Linked DNA regions of Homo sapiens. The protein of the gene in region 1 interacts with the protein of each later gene in a biochemical or structural test. Each region holds a gene or a part of one and is shown in the gene's direction. Other genes may lie near its edges.

What was found.
Region 2: of the proteins of MUC7 (region 1) and GALNT14, one has a biochemical effect on the other in vitro, tested with the Homo sapiens proteins (one study listed by BioGRID).
Region 3: the proteins of MUC7 (region 1) and SELL form a complex in vitro, tested with the Homo sapiens proteins (one study listed by BioGRID).
Region 4: the proteins of MUC7 (region 1) and LTF interact in far-western blotting, tested with the Homo sapiens proteins (one study listed by BioGRID).

What each region holds. Positions count from the first base shown.
Region 1 is NC_000004.12:70,475,193-70,482,224, forward strand, and holds part of MUC7 (mucin-7 precursor), read left to right. Parts: intron 1-5,606; coding exon 5,607-6,686; 3' UTR 6,687-7,032. UniProt on the Homo sapiens protein: May function in a protective capacity by promoting the clearance of bacteria in the oral cavity and aiding in mastication, speech, and swallowing. Binds P.aeruginosa pili.
Region 2 is NC_000002.12:30,911,430-30,918,461, reverse strand, and holds part of GALNT14 (polypeptide N-acetylgalactosaminyltransferase 14), read left to right. Parts: intron 1-6,119; coding exon 6,120-6,239; intron 6,240-7,032. UniProt on the Homo sapiens protein: Catalyzes the initial reaction in O-linked oligosaccharide biosynthesis, the transfer of an N-acetyl-D-galactosamine residue to a serine or threonine residue on the protein receptor.
Region 3 is NC_000001.11:169,690,135-169,694,620, reverse strand, and holds the end of SELL (L-selectin precursor), read left to right. Parts: intron 1-2,818; coding exon 2,819-2,837; 3' UTR 2,838-3,954; downstream 3,955-4,486. UniProt on the Homo sapiens protein: Calcium-dependent lectin that mediates cell adhesion by binding to glycoproteins on neighboring cells. Mediates the adherence of lymphocytes to endothelial cells of high endothelial venules in peripheral lymph nodes.
Region 4 is NC_000003.12:46,461,880-46,469,770, reverse strand, and holds the start of LTF (lactotransferrin isoform 1 preproprotein), read left to right. Parts: upstream 1-4,865; 5' UTR 4,866-4,903; coding exon 4,904-4,946; intron 4,947-6,116; exon of another isoform or gene 6,117-6,327; intron 6,328-7,891. UniProt on the Homo sapiens protein: Transferrins are iron binding transport proteins which can bind two Fe(3+) ions in association with the binding of an anion, usually bicarbonate. Lactoferricin binds to the bacterial surface and is crucial for the bactericidal functions.

The sequences.
Region 1 (7,032 bases):
TGCTCGAACCTGGGAGGCAGAGTTTGCAGTGAGCCGAGATTGCATCACTGCACTACAGCCTGGGTGACAGAGCAAGATTTTGTCTCAAAAGAAAAAAAAAGAAAGAAATGAACAAAAACGTTCTAGTTTGGGGCATGTTACATTTGAAATGGCTATTAGACTTCCACATCAAGATATCAAGAAAACAGTGGATATATGTTGTCTGGAGTTCAGAAAGAAATCTAGGGGTAAAGTCTATATTTAAAACATACTTGAAGCCATGAAACCTTACAACATTTTCACCTAGGGAGAAAATGTAGGAAGTTTAGATATGGATAGAGAAAATGGAGGACCCACAAGAGGGGACAGGAAAGGATGGCTTCCAAAACCAAGAGAAGACTACAAAGTGGACCTTCTATCTTTAAGAAATTTAGGGTGTACTGGCAAAGGAAGATTAAAATTAATAATGATATAATGTGATTACAAGGTGATACATGCTGTAATAATAACCATATTTTTCTCTCATGCTATGTACCTGCAAGTATTTATTAAATTTTATTTTGACAAAATTTCAAATAAGAATCAAGAAGTGGAATGTACTTTTTTATTGAATGAGGATGGATAGCCTCAGAATATTACGCCAGTAGAGTAGAGAGAGAGAGGGCAGAAGAACTGATGAAGTGGACGGAATTTACTCTTGGATATTCTCATATTTCTCACTTACCTTATAATATCCCCCAGAAAACAATCAGGCTTTTTCCCGGACCCTAATGCTGATTTCTGTGACTAGAAGAGTGTTCAAGCTGGGCTCAGAAGATGTGGGCTTAAACTCATCTCTAATGTTTACCATCCAGATGAATCTTGAGCAATTTAGAATCTATTTATAGGGCCCCAATTTCCCTATGTGTAAAATAATAACAACACTATATGCTTCACAGGGCTGCTGAAGGGTAAATGAGAATTTATAAATTATAAACTATAGTGTAGATATAAAAATTATGACAAGATTATTGTAATCTCAATTTACATACTAGTTGATAAGGCTTTAAGTTCTGAATATGCACAGTGATGTTAACTTTTTAATAAGTAAAGTTTTAATAAGGAATCCCTGGCTACCAACACCTCTATATTGAAAGAAATAATTTTCCAATCAACACAAGTCATGTTATTGTGAAATGATGAATCTGGGTTGTTCTTTTGAAGTGGCCTTTCATCATAACTCCCTCAAATCCAGACACCTAAAGAATCCTTTCTTCCAAGTGCTTAGAATAAATAAAACTCTTCAAGCTGCCCAAATCTCAAAAAAGTGCCTGGTGAGAGAAAGAGTTTCCAAAGAACTTGAATATGAGAAGGTAGCACAGAAATACCTTGACCTGATCCTTAGAAAATACAGGAATGTGAGGTCAGGAGTTCGAGACCAGCCTGGCCAACATGGTGAAACATCGTCTCTACTAAAAATACAAAAATTAGCTGGGCGTGGTGGCCCACACCTGTAATTGCAGCTACTTGGGAGGCTGATGGAGGAGAATCACTTGAACTTGGGAGGCAGAGGTTGCAGTGAGCCAAGATCGTGCCACTGCACTTCAGCCTGGGTGACAGAGCGAGACTCCGTCTCAAAAAAAATAAAAAGAAAAGAAAATACAGGAATGTACCGGAGATTAGCATTAACCCACAGCCAGAAAAGGTCAGTCCTGGAGCTCTAGCAACAACCTGCTTTTGTGGAGTGATTTCAGGGAGCAGATAGTCTGGCTTCTCTCTTCCAGATGTCCCAAAGAAAGACTTGAAGGGATGTATTCTGGAGTCAGATGAAGAGCTCTGTCAACTATAGCATTATTTAGCATAATGCTTTCATTCTCTTTAAAAAAGGATCACAGATTTTCAAATGGTCATAAAAATAAGCTGGTAGCAAATGAAGAAATGAATTGTGCTTTCTAATTTCAATTAAATGTAATCTTGGGCCGGGTGCCGTGGCTCACACCTGTAATTCCAGCACTTTCAGAGGCCGCGGCGGGAAGATCACCTGAGGTCAGGAGTTCAAGACCAGCCTGGCCAACATGGTGAAACCCCCATCTCTACTAAGAATACAAAAATTAGCCAGGCATGCAGTACACACCTGTAATTCCAGCTTCTAGGGAGGCTGAGGCAGGAGAATCCCTTGAACCCAGGAGACGTAGGTTGCAGTGAGCTGAGATCATGCCACTGCACTCCAACTGGGTGACAGAGTGAGACTCTGTCTCAAAATACAAAAGTAAAAAATGTAATCTTGGCCTTTCTGTCTTCTAATTCTCTCCCTTTCTGACTAATTTTCTCCTCCTCTTCCTTCCTCAGAGAATTTGGCATTCCTCTAGTTATTTTAGGAGTCTTCTGCTTTCTCATACCCTCCTTTCTTGCTGCAAGTGCCATGTGTCTCTCCTTCTCCTTCCCTTGACTCCAGCCTACTCTATCCTTGTTCCTCATGTCTTCTCCCTCTTCTCTGCTCTCAAAAGTACAGTTTGCAAATGGAGAAACATTCTCCTAAAAGTTACTTAGTCTGAGACTCAGTTTTCCCATCCATATAATGAAGATAATAACCGTACCCACCTTATGATATTACTAAGAAATTAAATAAATTTGTATTTGTAAACCACTCAGAATAGGGCCTAACATAAAGTGTTACATGAAGACTTTTTTAATAAAAATAAATAATGAATGTGAACAGGCAGGCAGGGTTGCTATCTTTAATACACCCTCCCTGGCATATCTATATTTATTATAAGGACCTCCATACTTCAGTCACCTAAACTCAAACTTTAGAGGCATGCATTTTCAACTCCTTCCTCTCTCAGACTTCTCTAAATCCAACTCTAGTCTACAATTTCTGTTATAACCACCTGTAACTGCCAATCATAATAACTAATCAATATATTAAGTAAATCAAACAAACTGGTCATTTGATACATGTTCCAGGCCAAGCTAACATTAAAATTAATAGGATTTTAATCAATTTGCCTTCATATAAAAATGTGGTAGGTATTATTTTGGTCACCTAAAGTAAAATAGCTGAAACTATTTTACATATGAATAAACACTTTTAAATGTTAATACTTTATTCAATAACAAATTAGTTATTGTTATCATTTCCATGCATTTACTCATTCAATTAATAGCTAATGAGTACCTGCCATATGCCAGGCATAGTTTTAGGTATTGGACTTACAGAGGTGAATCAAAGAGGGGCCTTCGTGAGGCTCATGTGATTAAGGGAATGAACCACATAACTATTTCAAAGCAAATAAAATTAGACTTTGGATCTGGAATTTAATTTAATCCAAATCATTTTATAAATGAATAAGCCGACATCCAGGCACATTAAGTGACTTGACCAAAGTCACTCAGCTATTCAGTGGCAGACACAGGACAGAGCCAAACCTCCACTGCTGGTCTGTTGCAGCATGTTTCATACATGTTCCTATAAGATCTGGACATTCTTTGCAACATCCTCAGAGACCATCTGGAAAGGGAAAGACCGAGATCATGGAATGTGAGGCCCTCAATCCTGCTTCAGTCAGAGCAGGTCCTTAATTATGTGGATTGCATATTCAATCTCCAGGGAAAGATCTGTTTGAACAATATGACCTGTTCTATTTTATATGAGAAAACAACTACCCCTGTAATGGAAAGGATCTCCTCAGAGATTCCTGGAGTCAGTGTTACCGATTCTGAAAACCTATGCCCTTTTAAGAGAGATTTATGGAAAAATACCAAAGTCATGTGAGTATCAGAAGCCATTATGTTAGCTATTGGTTGTTCTCAGTTGTGAATTAAAATTTCCTGGACAATTTAATTTTCTAAACAAATAATACTTTCTTGTATTGATGGATGTTGTGGAGAATGTCCAGATCTTAGAGGAACATATTTGAAACACACTGCAACAGACCAGCAGTGGAGGTTTTAGTCTGTCCTATGTCTGGCATTGAATAATTGAATGACTTTGGGCAAGTCACTTAATATGCCTGGATCTCAGTTTATTCATTTATGAAATGATTCGGATTAAATTAAATTCCAGATCCAAAATCTAATTCTATGACCTCTTTGCTTTGAAATAGTTATGTGGTTCATTCCCTCAATCACATGAGCCTCACGATGGTCCCTGTTTCATTCACCTCTGAAAGCCCAGTACCTAGAAGCTATTTTTGAGGTTGGATATATTAGTCTCTGAGGAAGTTATCTTAGTTAAACAACTCAGCTAGTCTCTCAGAAGTTGTCACTTCATCTGCACTAAACTTTGTGTCCAAAGAAAGCTTTATAACTTGCGACTGGAATGATTTACCCATTTGGTCATCTAAAAAGGGCTTCTGTGAACATCATTAGGAAGAAAACGTAACCTATCCTTGTTTGGGATGTTCTCATTTATCCTGTTATATTTCTTTTCTCCAATTTAATATAACTGATCACTAAAAAATGTAGTATGAGATTGAATACAGGGAAGAGGGATATAAAAGGCATGAAGTATGTTTACAGATAAGAAACTGAAACAGTGATGGTACTCTAACTCAAATAATGTCAGCAATGGCTAAAGGAAATAAAAATATCTTGCAAAATGATGACCCACATGGCATAGAAGTTATTTTCAAATTTTGAAAGACTTCTGGATCTTCTGTAAATCTGCCAAAACAAAATTAGGACCAAAGGATGGAAATCTTCATGAAGAAAATTCTACTCAGTTAAGAATGAAAATCCCAAAAAACAAACCTACATTCAGTGTCAAGAACTCTCTACCAGGCGGCCTTAGGAATTACAGTAGTGAGTTCCTAATCAGAAGAGGTTAGATGCATAGACTAGAAAGCCTTTCAGCAGGTGTATTGATAAAAGATCAAGTATCAGATGTACAGTTGGACTGGATCAGTGTTCTTTTCAGATGTAAACACCTTTCAGAAATCATGAAAACCATTGGTGCTCTATCCAGACAAAATGCATAAACATGCAAATTTTCTCTAAAAATCAGATGACTCATGAACCCCCGAATCATGAATTCTATAATTCTAATTTTTTAAACAATAAAGTTAAAAGGTAATGACCAAAGTTGTTTCTCCAATTTATAAAGGCTAAAAACTGTTTCCTGAAATATGGAGAACATGAAGCCGGGGTGGGATATTTTGTTTGTTGGGGCTTTGTTGTTGTTTGGCTGTTTCGTATTTTGATGATGGTAGATATGAGGGGTGTAATCTAGAAAGGGCTCCTGGATCTCAGTTGAATGTCTTTGACTAAAGTTTTGTGAACAGGCTGAGCAAGCAGGAAGCTTTTGTGATGGGACCTCAGGCAGTAACTTGACCATTTTCCACCAGAGGAAGAAGAGAGGAACTGTAAGCACAAAAGTTCGTATCCAGCTAAGCATTCAAGCTAGAACCCACAGGAATATATTCATCCCAGCTATCTAGAGAGTAGACATTTGACAAAAGAAAACTCTCTAGTAGCAATTCTTTCTTGAAACTTGGTGAAATTAGGAAGATAATCACTTGACTCAATAATGTACTCTGGTTTCTAATCCCAGCATTCCACAAATACCGCTCATCTCATGGTCAGCAGTGATCACCTGATTGATAAATGGATACTTTTTTCATTTCTTACATTTTCTTTCTTTTCTGCAGTTCAGTGAAGGTCGAGAAAGGGATCATGAACTACGTCACAGAAGGCATCATCACCAATCACCCAAATCTCACTTTGAATTACCACATTATCCTGGACTGCTAGCTCACCAGAAGCCGTTCATTAGAAAGTCCTATAAATGTCTGCACAAACGCTGTAGGCCTAAGCTTCCACCTTCACCTAATAACCCCCCCAAATTCCCAAATCCTCACCAGCCACCTAAACATCCAGATAAAAATAGCAGTGTGGTCAACCCTACCTTAGTGGCTACAACCCAAATTCCATCTGTGACTTTCCCATCAGCTTCCACCAAAATTACTACCCTTCCAAATGTGACTTTTCTTCCCCAGAATGCCACCACCATATCTTCAAGAGAAAATGTTAACACAAGCTCTTCTGTAGCTACATTAGCACCAGTGAATTCCCCAGCTCCACAAGACACCACAGCTGCCCCACCCACACCTTCTGCAACTACACCAGCTCCACCATCTTCCTCAGCTCCACCAGAGACCACAGCTGCCCCACCCACACCTTCTGCAACTACACAAGCTCCACCATCTTCCTCAGCTCCACCAGAGACCACAGCTGCCCCACCCACACCTCCTGCAACTACACCAGCTCCACCATCTTCCTCAGCTCCACCAGAGACCACAGCTGCCCCACCCACACCTTCTGCAACTACACCAGCTCCACTATCTTCCTCAGCTCCACCAGAGACCACAGCTGTCCCACCCACACCTTCTGCAACTACCCTAGACCCATCATCCGCCTCAGCTCCACCAGAGACCACAGCTGCCCCACCCACACCTTCTGCAACTACACCAGCTCCACCGTCTTCCCCAGCTCCACAAGAGACCACAGCTGCCCCAATTACCACACCTAATTCTTCCCCAACTACTCTTGCACCTGACACTTCTGAAACTTCAGCTGCACCCACACACCAGACTACTACTTCGGTCACTACTCAAACTACTACTACTAAACAACCAACTTCAGCTCCTGGCCAAAATAAAATTTCTCGATTTCTTTTATATATGAAGAATCTACTAAACAGAATTATTGACGACATGGTGGAGCAATAGTATATTGTATGTTGTAAAGTGTTCTGTCATTTACAAGATGTGATTCATGAGTGCAGAACTACCACCTTTCTTTTAGCACCAATCCCAACATGAAATTATATTACTCAGATTTAAAGCACTATCATTAATCTTTCAATCTAATTATTCACCACCACAAGACCTATTAACAAGACAAAATGCCTCTATCCCACAAGCCAGATGCAGGTCTGGGGTTCAAAATAACTCTTTGGATCCTACAGAGATAGCCTACTGAGGGCAAAGAAAGTCCTTAGATAAAGAGAGAATATTGTATGGGCCATCAACCATTTACTTTTCCCTGAATGTTAGAAACTACAAAACCACTACC
Region 2 (7,032 bases), on another chromosome or scaffold:
TTGAGCATTTGCTAATGGAAAGCACCACTCTGGGATAGGTATTAACCCATTTGTTCCTTGCAGTGACCCTCTTAGAGACTGATGTCATCCTCATTTTACATGCAAGGGAACTGTGGTACAGAGTTGAGTAACTCGCTCAAATTCACAGGTTAATAGGCAGCTCTGTGGGGATTCTAGCCCTGGTATCACCCCAGGATCCAACAACATGACCCAGCGAAGATGTACTGAGTGTGGGCTTTAATCACACATATAAGTGTAATCTTGCCACATGGGAGGAAAGGACAGAATGGGCTGGAAATAAAGAAAAGACCCCAAAAGTGGGTTCATCAAAGTTTCCAATGGAAGGAGGTGTGTCTAGGAGCCCACCAGGTCATCCTGCTGCCTCTGGAGAAAAAGCCTCCACCAGGGAGGGACTGAGGCAGACCCCAGCACAGCCATCAGCTCACTTGTGCTGTTGTCACAGTTGGTACAATCACTGCAGCTGATGCTTCAGAGAGCCAGAGGCATCACGAGGGCAGTTCATTTGAATTCAGGCTCATCCATTCTAGATGCCTTGTTTGAAGGGAGAGCTTCAAGGCTATGTCTCAGGGACCGTGGAGGTACCCAGTATGGACTAAGATGTTCAAGGCCCTGGATACTTGGCTCAGGTCTCACCTCACCAAGGAGAGGCCAAGTTCAGAATCAACCCTGGGGTCTGCTTCTGGCATTGCCAGAGTAACCATTGGCCCCTTTGATCCTCAGTTTCCTCTTCTACAAAACGGGAACCGTAGTGGTTATGAGAATTAAATAGACAATGAATGTGAAGCAACTAGCACCAGGCCTGGCCCTTGAAAGAGTCTCTTACAAGCAGTTGTCACTTTGGCTGTCTAACTACAACAAAACCAGCAGTGCTGTCCTGCCCATGCCTGGTGGTGTCACCCCTCCTGGAGAGAGTATTGACAGATGGGGTAAGGGAGGCTTGGAGAGACTGCCCAGGTGGTATGTGAGTAATGCCAGGGCATGGTTCAGATACAGGCCTGCCACCTGCAGAGCCCAAGCCCTTCAGGTGAGACTAGGGCTTCTAACCCTCAGCACTACTGGTAATAGGGCCAGATCCTTCTTTGTTGAGGGGTTGTCCTGTGCAGCATGGGATGTTTAGCAGCATCCATGACCCCACCCACTGGTGGCTAGAAACACTCCTTCACCCAGCCATAGAACCAAAAATGTCTGCAGACACTGCCAGAGGTCCGCTGAGTGGGGAGAGTCGAGAGCCGCTGCTCCAGGCTGATTGTTTCTTGCCTACCAGAGGCAGGGGCCCTGGGCCATTCCAAGAGCAGCTCCTCTGCCTGGGCCCAGGCTCGTCCTCACTCCTGCCTCTTTTTTTTTTTTTTTTTTTTTTTTTTTTTGAGACGGAGTCTTACTCTTTTGCCCAGGCTGGAGTGCAATGGCATGATCTCAGCTCACTGCAACCTCTGTCTCCCAGGCTCCAGCAATTCTCCTTCTTCAGCCTCCTGAGTAGCTGGGATTACAGGCATGTGCCACCACACCTGGCTAATTTTTGTATATTTGGTAGAGATGGGGTTTCACCATATTGGCCAGGCTGGTCTCAAACTCCTGACCTCGTGATCCACCCATCTCAGCCTCCCAAAGTGCTGGGATTACAGGCAAGAGCCACCGCGCCTGACCCTCTTTTAGTTACCTCTTAAGACAATCTTTCATCCCTGCTTCGCCATCCTGTGCAAGACCACAAGCCCCAGGCTGGGTGCTGTGGCCCGTCTGCATCCCAGCTTCCACAGCTATGGCCAGACTGGCATCTGCTAGAGAAGGTTACTGACCCCTGCCTGTCCCCTCCCTGCTCCCACCAGCAGTGGCCATCTCCAGACGTGTCCTCCAAGCACAGAAGGTTTTAAGGCTGTCTGACCCAGTCGATCCCCTCCTCATTCATTGGTGACTCCCCTCCTCCTCAGCCCCCAGCTGGCCTATCCCAGTGGAGGGGGCAGGGTCACCCACACCAACTAAGGACAGTCTCTGGGTTGCCCTTCCATGGCTACAGCTTTGGGATAGGAGGGACGGTTCCCGGACCAAACCGAGGGTTGAGCTGCTTATTCTCATGGCCCAATAATGAGATGCAGATGAACTGGGAAAGAAGAGAGTTTATTTCTGTAACCGGGCACAGAGAGAAAACCTGGAAATTATCACCAGACCAACTCAAAATTACAAAGTTTTTCAGAGCTTATATACCTTCTAAGCTGTTTGTCTACGTGTGAGTGTGCATTCATCTAAAGACATAAGTGATTAACTTCTTCTAATCTATAACTAAGGTCTGAGTCCTGAAGACCTTCTCCTGGAGCCTCAGTAAATTTACTTAATCTAGATGGGTCCAGGTGCTGGGGTGATTACTCTTATCTTGTCTCCTGCTAAATCATGGAGGTTTGGGGAGTTCCTTCAGACCCCAATAAAACTTGTTTGTGGAGGTCTGGGGAGTTTCTTCAGACCCCTGATAAAACTTGTTTAATCCTAAACAGGTCCTGTTAAGAATTCCTTCATTATCTTGTCATGCTTCAAGGCCCAGGAAAAGCCTAGACAAACTCTTGGTGGGCTTTTGTTACATATAAGCTTTTGTAAAAGGGCACTGGCCCTTTCAGCCTTTAACATTTAACTTACCCACTCAGTCAGGGCTGAAAGTTGTCTTAGAGGCCTGCCTGTTCAGCTGTTAGGGAGACCTGGCCTGCCACAGGACCTCCATCATGGGCTAGGCTTTTGCCAGGCCCCCAAACGAAGCCACCAGCAGAGGGCCCAGCACTCAGCGAATCCAGGCCAGACCTGCTGAGCAACCTCTGCTGCCTTCCTGGAGTCTGTTTCTGACTGCAGGATTCTTTTAATAAACTCATTCATCATGGCCCTTCTGGGAAGTCTGACAGGCTGCAGAATGGAAATCCGAAAATGCTCTCCTTGCTTCCCACCTGTATGCTCCTGTTTCCTGCTTCTCCTCCCTCCTCTCCTCTTTCAGATGTGGCCAGACATCAGCCTTCCTCTGGGACATGACGAGGCTAAGTTATTGAAATGCCAGGAAATACCAGCTAATGGAAAGTCCACTTAGCATGAGGGCTTCATTAGCTGTGCCTGTTCACACATTCTCCTTGGGGGTCTTTGAGATGTTTTCATCAAGTCCCGGCCTGGGGACACACCAGATGCCCAAATGCATTTCTTCCTGAAAGGCATCTGTGGACAACAAGGGTAGAGGATGTCAAAATAACTGCCCACCCACCCACCCATCCAGCACTTCCAGTTTTGGGACCCCTAGGATATTAAAAAAGAAGAAATGCCAAAGTGGGCTCTCAAAAGAGGCTTTTATATTTAATCAGTTAATGCTTTTAACACAAAAAACACAATGTCATTGTATGATGGTGATTGTAAGATAATGGCAGGATTCATTTTTGAAATACTAATTTGTGGTTCCCTACAGACTCTATAGTCAGGTAATGGGTCAGAAGGAATGAACTTAGTCTTTCCCTTGTACTGATCTCAGGGCATATGGCTTCCTGGTAGTCCAGCTGTTGCATTTGACCTTTTGGCCCTTCTCTCTCCTCCCCACAGGCCAAGGAATATTCTAGGCCCACCTTCTAGATCACATTCTGGATATTTAGGACTTCAGAATCCCCCACCCAAATGGCCCCAGCCTAATTCAAAACCCTGCGTGGGTCTCATCCCTGGGTTTGTCCTCCGAGGGTGGACTGTGTCTCTAGTACACATCCCCAGGTCCAAGGGAGACCATTTAGAGGGGAATGACTCAGCTTGGATATGCAGCCAAGGTAGGGGAAGAAAAAGGCGGGGCGGCTCAGGCTAGAAGCCAGCACTGTGTGTATCCTATGGTTTGGTGTAGAATCAGGAGTGTGGGCCTCCATTCATACTCATGGCCGAATTACTCTATTAGAGAGGGCACTATTCTCTGGCCTGCCCCACCCCAGACCTTGGCAAGGGGGTACAACCTTTGTTCATCTTTTCATAAAGGTTGTCATTGGGAACTGGCCAAGAAGAAGAATCTCTTGCCACTCTCCCCTGTCAAGGTGGAGCTGATCTTTGGTTTTAATGTCTACAACCTGGAAGAAGAATCTCAGGGGCAGGTGTCTTCTCCCCGGATTAAGGTTATCTAAAAGAGCTCAGAGCCGGCCCTAACTCTCCAGCATCAACAAGAGCAGAGCTGCTGGAGAAAGTTGGTGTGGGGGCCACTTGCTGGTGTATGACTTTGGATAGCCTCTCCGAGCCTTGGTTTCATCATCTATAAAATGAGGATAATAGTAATACCTACTTAATAGGATTCTTATGAAAATTAATCAATCTGTGTAAAGTTGTCAGGATAATGCTGGGCACATCATAAGCGCTCAATAAATGTCAGCTCTTATTAGCAGCAGCAGCAGCAGCAGCCTGGTCATTGCACCACCTCTGTGCGGACAGACTTGTTTCCCCTTTCAGCTTATCTTGGAGAAAGGCAAATGGGATGTGTAGAATGTGATGGTCACAAGGCCAGAGAAGAACTTCTTGATATGTCCCAAGGAATGTATCTCATGACTTTTTATTATAGAAAATTTCAAATATCTATAGATACAGAAGTCGAATAGTATAAAGAACGCCCATGTACCCATTGCCCTGCTGTTAAGAACAAGACTCAAGGACAGTCTTGTTTCATCTATATTTGCATCTCTCCCCAGGGAGTACTTTCTGATCTAGGTCTTCTCCCAACACCAACAGTTTGAAAAGGGATAAAAGAATCCTAATGCAGGAGCCATTCTCCCACTAGGCCGGTGAGTCCCAGATCAAGAGAGCCAGGCGTCATTGTACAGCAAGTCAGGTTGACTCAAGGTGGACGTATTCAGGACAGCAGAAGGTCCTGAGCCTGTGGGAGTGGTTCCTCCGAACCACCCAGGTCCCAGAAAACAATTAAAGCTTTCAGCAGCCCATGGAGGTCAGGAGAGGACCAGGGACCAGGAGGGAAGATGGAGAACGAGAGACAGATGACCACCATGTCTGCCTGGGGGACACCTTGTCCTAGAGTAGGAGGCTGGCCTGCTAAGTGGACTTTTTCATTCTTGGGCCAAGGGGAAGTAGCCAATGAGTAACCTGGTCCAGAGGCTCAGGGTCAACTTGTTTCAGGGATGTGGTGGAAACAGATACAGCCCTCAAAGGATCCTCCGCAGCTTCCCCAGGGGACCCAATTCAGGAATCATCTTTGCCCCCAGACGGAGGCAAAGGGTAAATATTACCTTATTTTACAACCTGGGGGAGAAAACGCTTATGCCAGTACTTTCTGCCCCACTGACTTAAGAACTGGGAAGTGCTTGTGGCTTCATAATCCAGTTACTCTGTGATCTCTGGTACTTTGGAGGAAAAATGTTGGAATCATTCCTCATAATGAATGACACAGCATGCCCTTCTTCCTGATGCCAACAGAACTCTGCTTGTCAATCCAATTTCTCAGCTTCGCTCCCTGAAAGAGCTCAGGGGCCAAAAGATCTATTATCCTGGCACATGCACCCTCCTGAAATAATTTGAATCCTCATAACATTCTTCTTTCCCTAGACCCTTCTTTATTCATTCCCTTGGAACACTTGTTCCATTTATCCTTCCATCTGCCTCTTGTCATAACTCTCATGTGCTCTAGTCTCATGTGCTCTGGACACTGACTTGGACTGCCTTTCAAAGAACAGGGGAGAGTCTAAAGATATCTGGTATGGAGGGGTGGGGAGTTGACCTGCTAGATGGCTGCTTGAAATGTCAAGTGCTGGGAACAGACCCCCTCGAGATGTTTTCTCCAAACAAAAACTGTGGAGCACACAGCTCAGCTGGGGTTGTTGTTCAGACTCCTGCCCAAAGCCCAGAATTGTTCAGGACTCCCAGAGGCAGCCTGAATGGCCCAGGCCCAGGCCCCTTCATGGGGTGGATGGAGATTTCCATGGAGATATGACCTCCGAGTCTCTGGCACTTGAGTAGCATTTTCCAAGGTAACCTTGATGATCATTGCCTACTGGGACCCTTGGTGCTTCTTACCAGCCTGTGCTAATCACACCCGTAAGTGTGGTTGTATCCCACGAGTGGTGGCTTCCTGGATCCTGAACAAACCTTCCTGGTCTCTTTCTCCCCAGGTATGGGCCTTCACATACACCCAGCAGATCCTCCAGGAGGAGCTGTGCCTGTCAGTCATCACCTTGTTCCCTGGCGCCCCAGTGGTTCTTGTCCTTTGCAAGAATGGAGATGACCGACAGGTAAGTGCTCAGCAGGTCCCTGGGATGTGGCCAACTCCGTAATGTGACTGCCTGTTGAGGGCTTAGTCTGATGAGCAGGAAAAGAGAGAAATTGTTAGAAGAGGAAGAGTTGATAAGAGAGGTCAGGAGAGGGAGGGAAAGTGCTGCCTGGGATCCCCTCTGTGATGCTAGCAGCAATGGCAACATCCACCCTCACTGGTCAGCCTGCCCCATGAAAGCCTATTGATTTCCACTGACCACACCATGCCCAGTCATCTTCTACTTTCCTGTCATTGCTCTGTTCCCCACGTGGGATCCCAAACAAGGATCTCAGGGTCACAAGGATGAGCAAGACTTGACCCTTGCCTTCAGGGCCCTGGGCTCTGGCAGTATGTCCCCCAAACTTCCTAGCATTCTGGATGCACCACATGCCCAGTTCCTCTAGCAGCAAAGTGATGTCTCCATTCAGTTTCTTGCCAACTGGGTATTGGTGTTAGAGAGAACAAGATTCAAATGCCTGTTTTATGGTTTACAGGCTGTGTGACCCATGGCAGGTTATTGGACCTCTCTGGATGTCCATTTCCTCCTCTCTGAAATGGGGTTGAGAATGTCCACTACACAGGGCAGCTGTGACTGTCTCTTGGCAGTAACGTGCTCAGTGCCCTCTCCGGGGTGCTTCCCCTGATGTGTCCAGTCCCTCCTTTGTCATGCGAGGTCAAGTGTGAGAACCTGCTGCATGAGACCTGCCTCTCTGCTCTGGCCCGTCGTGTGCTGACACATTTTGAAGAAGCCCCCAGCCCCTCCTGCCATCACA
Region 3 (4,486 bases), on another chromosome or scaffold:
AATGGAGTCTAGTGAGGAAAGGCTTCTTTCTCTGGGCTGGTCTCCCTATGTCTGTGGCAGGAAACCCACAGATGTGAAGATTTCTTTCAAACTCGCACCTACTGAGTGAAAGTATTTTCTGGCACAATCTACCCAGAGCTGTTTTCTGGCTACCGGAACCACCTGTTTTAATTGCCACTAGATGGAAGCAGATCAACTAGATTTTTTTTTTTTAAGATGTCCTTGAGGCACAGGAGGAGAGACTGGCTGGAAGAATATTAGCAAAAAGCTAATTACCATGCTAAGCAAATTGCTATATTAAGTTTAATGGTTCACTGATTTTTTATAATCAGTCAATTAATAGTTGTTTATTGAACATTTTTGTGTTGGAAACTGCTAAGCTTTCTTGAGACAGCAAGAGGAGTCAGCCTGGTCCCTGATTTCAGGAAAATTATTACCTAGCTGGGGAGTTAAGACAGGAATATAGAAAGAAAAAAATCAGAAAAATACAAGGCAGAGCATGGTAATGGCCAATGGGTGCTATATTTAAGAAGGAAAAGGTCATTTGGCTTGGTGGTTATAGAAAATGTTATAAAGAAGGTTGCTTATGAAGAATAGATAGGATTTAGGTATATGGAGAAAAGCAGGAAAGGAAGGCAGTCTGTAGGAAGGAAATTGTGTAAGCAGTGGTATGGTAGTGAGACTATGAAAGCATTTTTCAGGGGCCACTGAGCAGAACTTTCTTGAGCCCATGGCTTATTGAGGAGTTGTGGAGTTGAAGTTGGAAAGGAAGGCTGGCCCCAATAACATAAGTCTTGAATGCTTCACCAGATGGTCTAGAAAGGCCTAGCAAAGAAGAATTATTTGCCCAGCTCTCATTTATTGACCAAGGCTGTATTAATTCATAAGAATCACAGAATTCTAGGTCTGAATATGATCTTGGTGGATATCACATTCAAACTCTTTTTGTAGTTGAACTAATTAAGTAAGTTTTCTATAGGCCTTGAGCAAGTGACAGAGTTAGTTACAATAATCATAAACCTTTATCAAATATTAATTCCATGTTGTATACTGTTATGAATGGTTTACATGTCTTAAATCATGAAATATGCCTTTAAGTCTGTGGGAGAAGGGTCTATGAACATCTTCATTACTGATAAAGAAACAGGCACAGAGAAATAAAATAGCCTGAGGTCACAATAAATGGCAATGCTGAGATCCATACTCATTTGGATCCAGGAATCATGCTCTTAACGCGTATGCTTTTAGAACTCAAGACCCTTGACTACCAGCTTAGAGTGGCAAGTCCCAGGCACCCTCCTTTTCCAGTAACGTGGTTTTTTTTTTCACACTGAAACCATTGTGTGACGGCACTGAGGAAGGGTGGGGTAGAAGTATGGTGTGTTTTTAGAACAAGTCAAAGGTAAAATGAATACTATCACACTAAACACCATGAGCCTTTTTTTTTTTTTTTAAGTTCTTGGGTGAATTTTCATAGTAGTTTGTGTTCATTTCTATTAGCTTTTGAATGGTGAATGAATGACTCCTTGGGCATTTGTGGTTTCATTTCTTGCTGGGTTATTTTGACTCTTCTGCAAAATGACTCTGTTTATCACCTCATTTGGTTTCTACTGTCTAAATTCTGGCAGGATAGAAGCTACACCCAAGATACACAGGAAGATATGATGCCAACCTCAGAGGAGGGCATATGTGAAATTTTGTTTTCAGAAACATTTTTTTGTCTCTATTTTGGCAAGCACATTTGCAGCTGCTGAACTGTGGTTTACCCTGACAGTTCATCATGAGACCAGCTCCTCAGAATCTGGTTCTCCCTTTGAAAGGTGCTGTGAAGACATACCATATTTCATTCTCTCCTTGTCCTTTCCAAGAATAAGACAGTTGTGTCACACAAAAAAAGTGTCACTTATTTCTTTAAACTAAATGTGTTACCATCTCATTAAATTATATCCCAGGATATAATTTATCACGAGTTTATAACCACCACTATTTCATGAGTTTAAATTTTCTCCAATTTCACTTTCCATTTAAGCATGCCTTCTAATTCCTTGACTTTCCACTGCTCAAAATCAATCTACAGCTGGGCTCGGTGGCTCACGCCTGTAATCCCAGCACTTTCGGAGGCCGTGGCAGGTGGATCATGAGGTCAGGAGTTTGAGATTAGCTTGGCCAATGTGGTGAAACCCCATCTCTACTAAAAATACAAAAATTAGCTGGGTGTGCTGGCACGTGCCTGTATTCCCAGCTACTCAGGAAGTTGAGGCGGAAGAATCGCTTGAACCCAGGAGGCCGTGGTTGCATGAGCTGCCTCCGTGCCACTGCACTCCGGACTGGGCAACAGAGTGAGACTCCATCTCAAAAATAAATAAATAAATAAATTAAATTAAATTAAATTAAAATAAACATAAATTTAAAAAATCAATCTACACTGTCCTTCAGACTCATTAGATCTGGAGACAAAGACCGTATGCACCACAAAAATTTCTCCAAGTGGGGTCTGTGCGCCAGTGGCATAAGCATCACTAAAGAGCTTGTTAGGGGTGCAGAATCTCAGGCTCCACTCAGACCTACTGAATCAGAGTCTGCATTTTAACACCATCTCTGAGTGGTAAGCACATGAAAATCTGAGAAGTGCTGCTACTAGGGTTTGCTTACATTTGTTCATCTTCAGAGGTTCCTAAAGCCTGGCCTCTTGTCTGAGATTTCCAGCTGAAAGCATTTCCTTGCTCCTCTTCTCATCTCTAATGAATATTTACCTTTACTACTAACACTCCAAGTTTTGCAATTTTTAAACTCTTATTATCTTTTGTTTTTCTTTCAGTATGAATGACCCATATTAAATCGCCCTTGGTGAAAGAAAATTCTTGGAATACTAAAAATCATGAGATCCTTTAAATCCTTCCATGAAACGTTTTGTGTGGTGGCACCTCCTACGTCAAACATGAAGTGTGTTTCCTTCAGTGCATCTGGGAAGATTTCTACCTGACCAACAGTTCCTTCAGCTTCCATTTCGCCCCTCATTTATCCCTCAACCCCCAGCCCACAGGTGTTTATACAGCTCAGCTTTTTGTCTTTTCTGAGGAGAAACAAATAAGACCATAAAGGGAAAGGATTCATGTGGAATATAAAGATGGCTGACTTTGCTCTTTCTTGACTCTTGTTTTCAGTTTCAATTCAGTGCTGTACTTGATGACAGACACTTCTAAATGAAGTGCAAATTTGATACATATGTGAATATGGACTCAGTTTTCTTGCAGATCAAATTTCACGTCGTCTTCTGTATACTGTGGAGGTACACTCTTATAGAAAGTTCAAAAAGTCTACGCTCTCCTTTCTTTCTAACTCCAGTGAAGTAATGGGGTCCTGCTCAAGTTGAAAGAGTCCTATTTGCACTGTAGCCTCGCCGTCTGTGAATTGGACCATCCTATTTAACTGGCTTCAGCCTCCCCACCTTCTTCAGCCACCTCTCTTTTTCAGTTGGCTGACTTCCACACCTAGCATCTCATGAGTGCCAAGCAAAAGGAGAGAAGAGAGAAATAGCCTGCGCTGTTTTTTAGTTTGGGGGTTTTGCTGTTTCCTTTTATGAGACCCATTCCTATTTCTTATAGTCAATGTTTCTTTTATCACGATATTATTAGTAAGAAAACATCACTGAAATGCTAGCTGCAAGTGACATCTCTTTGATGTCATATGGAAGAGTTAAAACAGGTGGAGAAATTCCTTGATTCACAATGAAATGCTCTCCTTTCCCCTGCCCCCAGACCTTTTATCCACTTACCTAGATTCTACATATTCTTTAAATTTCATCTCAGGCCTCCCTCAACCCCACCACTTCTTTTATAACTAGTCCTTTACTAATCCAACCCATGATGAGCTCCTCTTCCTGGCTTCTTACTGAAAGGTTACCCTGTAACATGCAATTTTGCATTTGAATAAAGCCTGCTTTTTAAGTGTTAACTAGTTTGCCTAGTTTGTTATTTTGAAATTATCATATGTTTTGTTTTCTCCCCAGTGAGATTACATGCTCCTTCAGGGCAGAGTTTGTGTCAGATCCCTGGAGTATCTAGTGCATTACTTGACACTCAATAAATGAATGTTCAAATAAATCAGAAAGAGCATACAGTGCACTGCTGATATAAGTTTCAGCAAACCCTCTTTCTCTATGGCATCTGATGACCTGGGCAGATATCACCTAATGTCAACAGCTGAATTCTTATGAGAGAATAGAGCCCTTTCAGAAGCTAGCTGGAAATACCTCCTTGTCCCATGGCCAATATAGATTTCATACAAATTTGCACACATTATGAGAATAATTTTTTGGTAATGATTACACTTTTCTTTCTCAAAGACATCTCAGATTCTGTATTATAGCAAAAGCTGTTGCAAAAGATTCTCCCTATAGTACACTGTAAATCTTGGATGTGCAAATCACATTCATGTGGTTTAGGGTACATCCCCTGGAGGTGTACAGTGCACACGTGCACAGACA
Region 4 (7,891 bases), on another chromosome or scaffold:
CTCTTAGGGCCTTTGGCTGTCTTCAAAAGGGCCAATGTGGGGCCAAATGTGAGGGCCTTTCTCTCAAGGTCATTGTCTGTGTTGGGATCTTGGGGGGACTTGGGTGGGTAGAGACACAGGCAGCTCTCCATCCATCTCTTTCTCCTTCTCCCCCATTCTCTGCCCCTCTCTTCAGGGTGATCAGCAAATAAATGATCAATACTAAGACACCAAGGCCCTAAGAAGTCACTGGATGGGGTCCCGGGTGGATTTCTAGCTCTACTGTCCACTGGCTGTGAGACCATGAACAGGGTGCATTGCCCAAGTCCACTCAGCTGGAAACAGGTATAACAAGCACCTTTTGGTATTTCCAGAGCATCAGAAGCCAGCTGATGTGTGGAAGGGGCCAGGCAGGGCCTGCTTCACGGAAGGTTCAATTCTTGCCAGGTTCCCTTTGTGCTGAGATCCCTGGGCCTCAGTCCCTGCACCCTGAGCTCTCAGAGGGTTCTTGGCTCATGGAGGAGAAAGCCCCTGGCTGTGGGCCTAATGGGAGACTCAGGGATAGCAGTTGTATCTCACTCACTGTGTGACCTCAGGCGACACTCAGAGTACCTGTTTTTAGAATGGAAAGAGTGACTGTCTTAACTCACAGAGTCGTTGTTAAAGCCATGTGAAACAAAGTCACTGACAGCACTATTTGGATTTTAAAATGTCATCCAAATATTAAAGATTATTATCCTATTTCTCTGCTAGGGATGGCACAGCCACCCATACACAAACACACCCACACTAATGTGGACACTGCATGCCACCAATGATGAACGTAGGCAGCTGTGTGCTGGTCAACTGGCCCTCTGGGGGTGTGGAAGGAGGAAGCCCTGATTTAGAGCATTTGCTAATTCCATGGCATAAATACATCGACTATGCCTGATATCAAGCTGCCATCAGTTAACCCACCCCAAATCCCTAAATGTTTAACAAGTGGTTCTCAAGTCAGCAATCTCTCACCACTGGCAGGGAAAAGATACAGGGCCCAAGGTCTCCCATCTGCCAAGCTATTGTCCAAGCGTGAGTTGATGTCTCAGGAAGGCCTTTTCTGCCTTATCCCACCTGAAGCCAGTTCTACTCAGATCTCACACTTCCTTCCCAACACTCTTCTTGGGGTTTGAAGCTAGAGGCTCATAGAGGGCAGGGTGTGAGGTTTACTGGCTTGCAGGGAGGACTTAGGTTGGCCAGAGACTGTTGCCTGCTAATGGGGCTTGGGCCTGCAATTCTGTAAAGGCTCCCTGGAGGAGTTTTGAGGGTGGGGGCAGAGCAGGGTTAGGGGGAAGGGAGTCAGCCTCACACATCTGCCTGTTGAACACTAGCTCTTGCCACTGCATGGCAGTTTCCACAGCAGCTACCTTCTTTGTGCTCCTTAAACTCATGTTACTGTCTCAGCATTTGGAAACCTGCATTCTGCTTCCCTGCAGGCTCTTTGAGATCTGACCCAACTCCTGGCACGTTGGAGATGTCCCATAGACCAGTGTTGAATGAATGGGTAAGTTAATGAGTCCATGTACACAGGCTTTGGCATGGCCTGGCTTAGGCAGCCCTGACCCTCACTATCCTTCAGACCCAACACATTACAAACAGGATCCTTTGTCCCTTTCTTAGCCTGTTCCTCTTCCTCATTTATTCATTCCTTCAACCGATATTGATCATCAAGTGCCTATAACATGCACAGAGCTAACTGGCCAAAGGATTTGAGGGTGCCTCTGCGGCTCTTTGGTGGGTTTGGTGGAAAGCGGTAGGAAATATGAGAAAAGGTTCAGGGTTGGAGGGACTGGGTGAGTTGCATTTTCGATGCATTAAATTTAGGCGCCTTCAGGACCTGCAAGAGTACCTTTCCAGAGGCAGATGAACACATGATGTGGAGCTCAGGATAGAGGAGGAGGATTTTGTTAATCCTTCTTCCAACAAGAGTTCCAAGCCATGGCTGGGTGCAATGGTTTATGCCTGTAATTCCAGCACTTTGGGAGGCCAAGGTGGGAGGATCGCTTGGGCCCAGGAGGTCAAGGCTGCAGTGAGCTGTGATTGCACCACCACTGCATACCAGCCTAGGTGACAGAGGGAGACCCTGTCGGTAAAAAAAAAAAAAAAAAAAAGAAAAGAAAAGAAAAGAAAAAAAGAATTCCTGGCCAGAAAGCCAGAGGGAACTTTTGTTGTCCCTAGTGCTCAGGTAATTGGTCACTGGGTTCATGCTCCCAAGCCTTTACTTGTTTGGTTGTTTACTTTACAGAATGCTCTACCTGTAGAAATCCCACCCTTCCTTCAGGTACCCAGGCTAAATCTTCCTGGAGTTCTTCTGGAGCCCTCATGATGGGTGCTGGTCATTCCTCCTCTGGGCCCTCACACTCACTTGCTTTATGCTGCTTGGCCTCTTCTTAGGGAGCCTCTGTGATAGAAGTGCATTCCTGTGACTGTCCCTCCCCCATAGTGCTGTGAGCTCCTGAGGGCAAGGACAGACCCCTCTTCTCTGTCTCTCATGGCATCTACCAGTTCTGGCATGAATGAATGAATGAATGAATGAATGAATGCTGTTAATAGATCAGTGAAACTTCATTGTTTTTTGGGGCAGACTCATCCCCTACATCAGCCTCCTCTGCAAATGGCCTTGAGGGGCTGCTCTGCCTGTGTCCAGATGCTCACATCCCTGCCCTGGGGCTGGGCTGTTCCAACAGGCACAGCAGGAAAACAGTCTGCCCTGTTGCCTACCCATGCTGCCTTCAGGGCACTCCTTAAGCTGAGCCTCTTGGTAGTGGCCCCAGGTTCTCTGTGTTCTTGCCAACACTGTAACATACTTAAGAGGGCCCAGGGCCCTCTGACCTCCCAGTCATCCTTTTTTAAAATTTGGACTCAGAAAAAGAGACACGGGTTATGATGTTTCTTAATTCTTTTATAATGATGAAAAGGCAAAGTCTTGTTGCCAATTTAGGTACAAAGATGCTTCAGCACTCCTGGGAATTAGTCAATTTTGTATTTCTTCAGTATTTTTGAAAGAACTTATTGCAATTATTGATGATGGCAACTTTAAATGGTGCAATATCATGTTTCCAAACAATGAGAGACCTTGGATCTGTCACCCCAAAACCCAGCTGGTGATTCTAGCACCAAATCTCAGACCCCAGTCTCATGGCAGGCAAGCATGATCCCTGATTAGCCTCCACCCTGTGCCTTGGCAGGATCATGCCCAGAAATGGAGGGGCTCCCCAGCCTCCTTAATGGCCTCTCCACCTTGGGCTGAGCCTGCTTCTCCATGGCTAGGTGCCCACTGCATGCTCACTCTTGGCAGAGCTGGCTCCCTGGGGCATTGCCTATCTGCTCCAGGAAATGCTTTTTAGTACCAAGTAGTCTAAGCAGAGTCAAGACCAGCTTTTCAGAATAAGCAGATTTCAGAGTCACATATTGGTCAGACTCACCTGCCAAGAAAGGTGTTCAGGTGACCTATTATTTCCCTCACTGTTAGTACCTTTTTTCTTCACTTAGTTACCCTTTTTTTTTTTGGTGGGGGTTACAGAGTCTTACTCTATTGCCCAGGCTGCAGTGCAGTGACATGATCATGGCTCACTGCCACCTTCATCTCCCAGGCTCAAATGGTCCTCCCACTTTAGCCTCCCAAGTAGCTGGGACCATAGGCATACACCACCATGCTGGGCTAATTTTTGTATTTTTTGTAGAGATGGGGGTTTCCCTATGTTGCCCAGGCTAGTCTTGAACTCCTGGGCTCAAGCGATCCTCCCATCTTGGCCTCCCAAAGTGCTGGGATTACAGGCATGAGCCACTGTGCCCTGCCTAGTTACTCTTGGGCTAAGTTCACATCCATACACACAGGATATTCTTTCTGAGGCCCCCAATGTGTCCCACAGGCACCATGCTGTATGTGACACTCCCCTAGAGATGGATGTTTAGTTTGCTTCCAACTGATTAATGGCATGCAGTGGTGCCTGGAAACATTTGTACCTGGGGTGCTGTGTGTCATGGGAATGTATTTACGAGATGTATTCTTAGAAGCAGTATTCTAGCTTTTGAATTTTAAAATCTGACATTTATGGCGATTGTTAAAATGAGGTTACCATTTCCTACTGAATACTATCAACACCAAAAAAGAAGAAGGAGGAGATGGAGAAAAAAAAGACAAAAAAAAAAAAAAGTGGTAGGGCATCTTAGCCATAGGGCATCTTTCTCATTGGCAAATAAGAACATGGAACCAGCCTTGGGTGGTGGCCATTCCCCTCTGAGGTCCCTGTCTGTTTTCTGGGAGCTGTATTGTGGGTCTCAGCAGGGCAGGGAGATACCCCATGGGCAGCTTGCCTGAGACTCTGGGCAGCCTCTCTTTTCTCTGTCAGCTGTCCCTAGGCTGCTGCTGGGGGTGGTCGGGTCATCTTTTCAACTCTCAGCTCACTGCTGAGCCAAGGTGAAAGCAAATCCACCTGCCCTAACTGGCTCCTAGGCACCTTCAAGGTCATCTGCTGAAGAAGATAGCAGTCTCACAGGTCAAGGCGATCTTCAAGTAAAGACCCTCTGCTCTGTGTCCTGCCCTCTAGAAGGCACTGAGACCAGAGCTGGGACAGGGCTCAGGGGGCTGCGACTCCTAGGGGCTTGCAGACTAGTGGGAGAGAAAGAACATCGCAGCAGCCAGGCAGAACCAGGACAGGTGAGGTGCAGGCTGGCTTTCCTCTCGCAGCGCGGTGTGGAGTCCTGTCCTGCCTCAGGGCTTTTCGGAGCCTGGATCCTCAAGGAACAAGTAGACCTGGCCGCGGGGAGTGGGGAGGGAAGGGGTGTCTATTGGGCAACAGGGCGGGGCAAAGCCCTGAATAAAGGGGCGCAGGGCAGGCGCAAGTGGCAGAGCCTTCGTTTGCCAAGTCGCCTCCAGACCGCAGACATGAAACTTGTCTTCCTCGTCCTGCTGTTCCTCGGGGCCCTCGGTGAGTGCAGGTGCCTGGGGGCGCGAGCCGCCTGATGGGCGTCTCCTGCGCCCTGTCTGCTAGGCGCTTTGGTCCCTGTGTCCGGTTGGCTGGGCGCGGGGTCTCTGCGCCCCGCGGTCCCAGCGCCTACAGCCGGGAGGCGGCCCGGACGCGGGGCCAGTCTCTTTCCCACATGGGGAGGAACAGGAGCTGGGCTCCTCAAGCCGGATCGGGGCACGCCTAGCTCTGCTCAGAGCTTCTCAAAAGGCCTCCCAGGCCCCTGTCCCTTTGTGTCCCGCCTAAGGATTTGGTCCCCATTGTATTGTGACATGCGTTTTACCTGGGAGGAAAGTGAGGCTCAGAGAGGGTGAGCGACTAGCTCAAGGACCCTAGTCCAGATCCTAGCTCCTGCGAGGACTGTGAGACCCCAGCAAGACCGAGCCTTTATGAGACTTAGTTTCTTCACTTAAAGAAACGGCCTAACCATGGGTCCACAGGGTTGTGAGGAGGAGATGGGGCATTCGCACACCTTCCGTGGCAGAGGGTTGTGGAGGGGTGCGGTGCTCCTGATGGAACCCTGTGTCAGAGGGTTTGAGAGGGAAATGTCAGCCAAACAGAAGGAAGGAGTAGAAGGAAGGAAACAATTGTCAGTTCCATAACCAAAGTAATTTCTCGGGTGCTCAGAGGGCACTCCCCAGCGCTGCACATTAGTGACCTAAATGCGTGAGTGCGGAGCTCCCTGCAGCACCGGGAGGGGAAGGTCCCAGGCCGCAGCAGAAAGGGCTGTGATGGGCATCAGGACCTAGGCAGTGGGAGGGGCACAGTGAAAGCCCAGGTGTCACACCTCCCCAGCCCAGTGCAGCCTCCACTTGTCTTACGGCATCTACCTAAGGCTGGGAGCTTCCTGGATGGAAGAGGTGGCGGTGGATAGAGAGCAGCAGTGGGAGCCCAAACCCATCCTTGTCCCTGCCCTTCTGGTCTCCTGCTCCAAATTCCTTCCCATGGGTGTTGGTCATCCTTCTCTTCTCTAAGACAGATTGGGACTGGCCAGGACCCGACTGTTCTCTTCCCCTCAAGCTCCCTGGCGAGTGGCCTGTTGCACAGGGTTAGGGCCACCTGGGAGGGGCAGGAGAGGAAGGAAGCCTTGCCTTCCTGGAAGTGGTCATGGGCTGTGGTCCAGGATTCTGGCTCAGAGTTGCACCACTGGGTTTTATATTCACTTGGATCTTTAGTTGTTTTGGCGCCTACTGAGGTCTGAAGTTTGAATCCTGCAGTCAATTGGGATGGTGGCTTGTACCCCAAAGTGCCATTGCAACCCTTGTCCTTCCTGAGGAAAGGGTGGCAGTTGCCCTGTGGAATTCCTGCCCTGCTCCCCGTGGGTGTCCAGGCTGACAGAAGTTGGGTGAGTGGGGCCAGCTGGATCTAAGCCGTGTGAGCATTGGGTGGAGGAGTCTGTCTGCTTAGCCCTGGAGCCATGGGCTGGGAGGCACTCATGAGGTTTCCCATCAGTCTGAGCAGTCTGCTTGGGCCCTATCATGAGCTGTGTGGGTAGGTGGGGAGAGTAACTCCTGTCCTGGCCCCTGCCTTGGAGGCCAGCGCACTGCATGTCTGCCCAGAATGTGTGTTTTGGCCAGTGTCCAGCCAGGTCCAGTGGGCAGCATCTGAGTGCCTGACACTGAATACAAGTGTGGGGTTGAAGATTTTGGAGGGGCCAGACCTAGACCTGCTTCAGGGGGTCACATAGCTCCAGAGCTGGGAGGTAAGAGCTTGTGGGTCACACAGCTCCAGAGCTGGGAGGTAAGAGCGTGGAGACTTCACCTGGTGTTTGGGGGGCTGGGGACTGGGAATCCTGGAAGGGAGCTCAGCGGTCCTTTAGTCACTCTGGTTCAGCTCCTCTTAGGGGAAGAAATGAACTCTGCCCACAGGTTCCCGTCATTGCTCAGCCCCCACCTCCGGCTTGAGGCATGGTCTTCCATTTTACTCTCTCCCTTCACCCCCAGAACCCACCCATTACCAAGCTGATTTCTGATACCAGCTCCCTGCCCCCTTCTCTGTTCTCAGTGCTGTCCCCTCTCTCCACTCAGACTAGCCCTTCCCTGGTGCCTTCGTTGGCCACAGCTTCTCTGCCTGTTCCCAGGTCTCAGTTCACTCTGCCCCTGCCCTAGGGAGAGTCTCCCGTGAGTCACAGCTTCACTGCATCCTGAATAAGACCTCCCTGGATCAGCATTGGAGACTTTCCAGGATCTGACCCAGACCCTTTTCTAGCCCCATCTCCAACCTGTCTCTAACTTTGCCAACCTAAATAGGCAGGCTAGCCCAGTGGTAAGAGTAGGGGAGTTTAGTGCCTGACTGCTTAGGTTGGAGTCCTAGATCCAACACTTACTTATTAGCTATGGGAACTTCCACAAGCCACATAACTAGTTAAAGCCATAGCTCCCTCCCCTGGAGAATGGAGAGGTTGGCAGAATTCACAATACAGAGGAGCTGTGGCAACTAATGGAGACACGTATGTCTCCATTAGCTGGTATTTGTTTGGTATTTGTTCTCTTTTAACACATCCACCATTCTTAGCTTCCTCTTTTTGGATTTTTGCCTCTCCAGTGAGAAGTGAAATCTGGTCCTGTCCGCTTACACATTCCTTGCGTGACACACAGTGCTGTTTGTACAGCAGGCATCCAGTTAATGCTCACTGGGTCACAAATGGCTGCATCTGATTGGGTTAATTCTCAGTGTGGGATAGTTCTATAAAGGCTTCCAAGGCAAGATTATATTCCCTGGGATTTCCCCGGGATGAGGGTGGATGAAGGGGGAGTATGGCAGCTAGGTGTCCCCAAACCTCTGCAGACTCAGCCAGGGAGCTACAGGCCTCTTGCCCACCCAAGGGCCATGGGTGGCTCTCGCCATAAGGGGATGGCTCAGAAACAGGAGACAGCAGAGGCTGAACATTCTACCCCATAGCACATCCA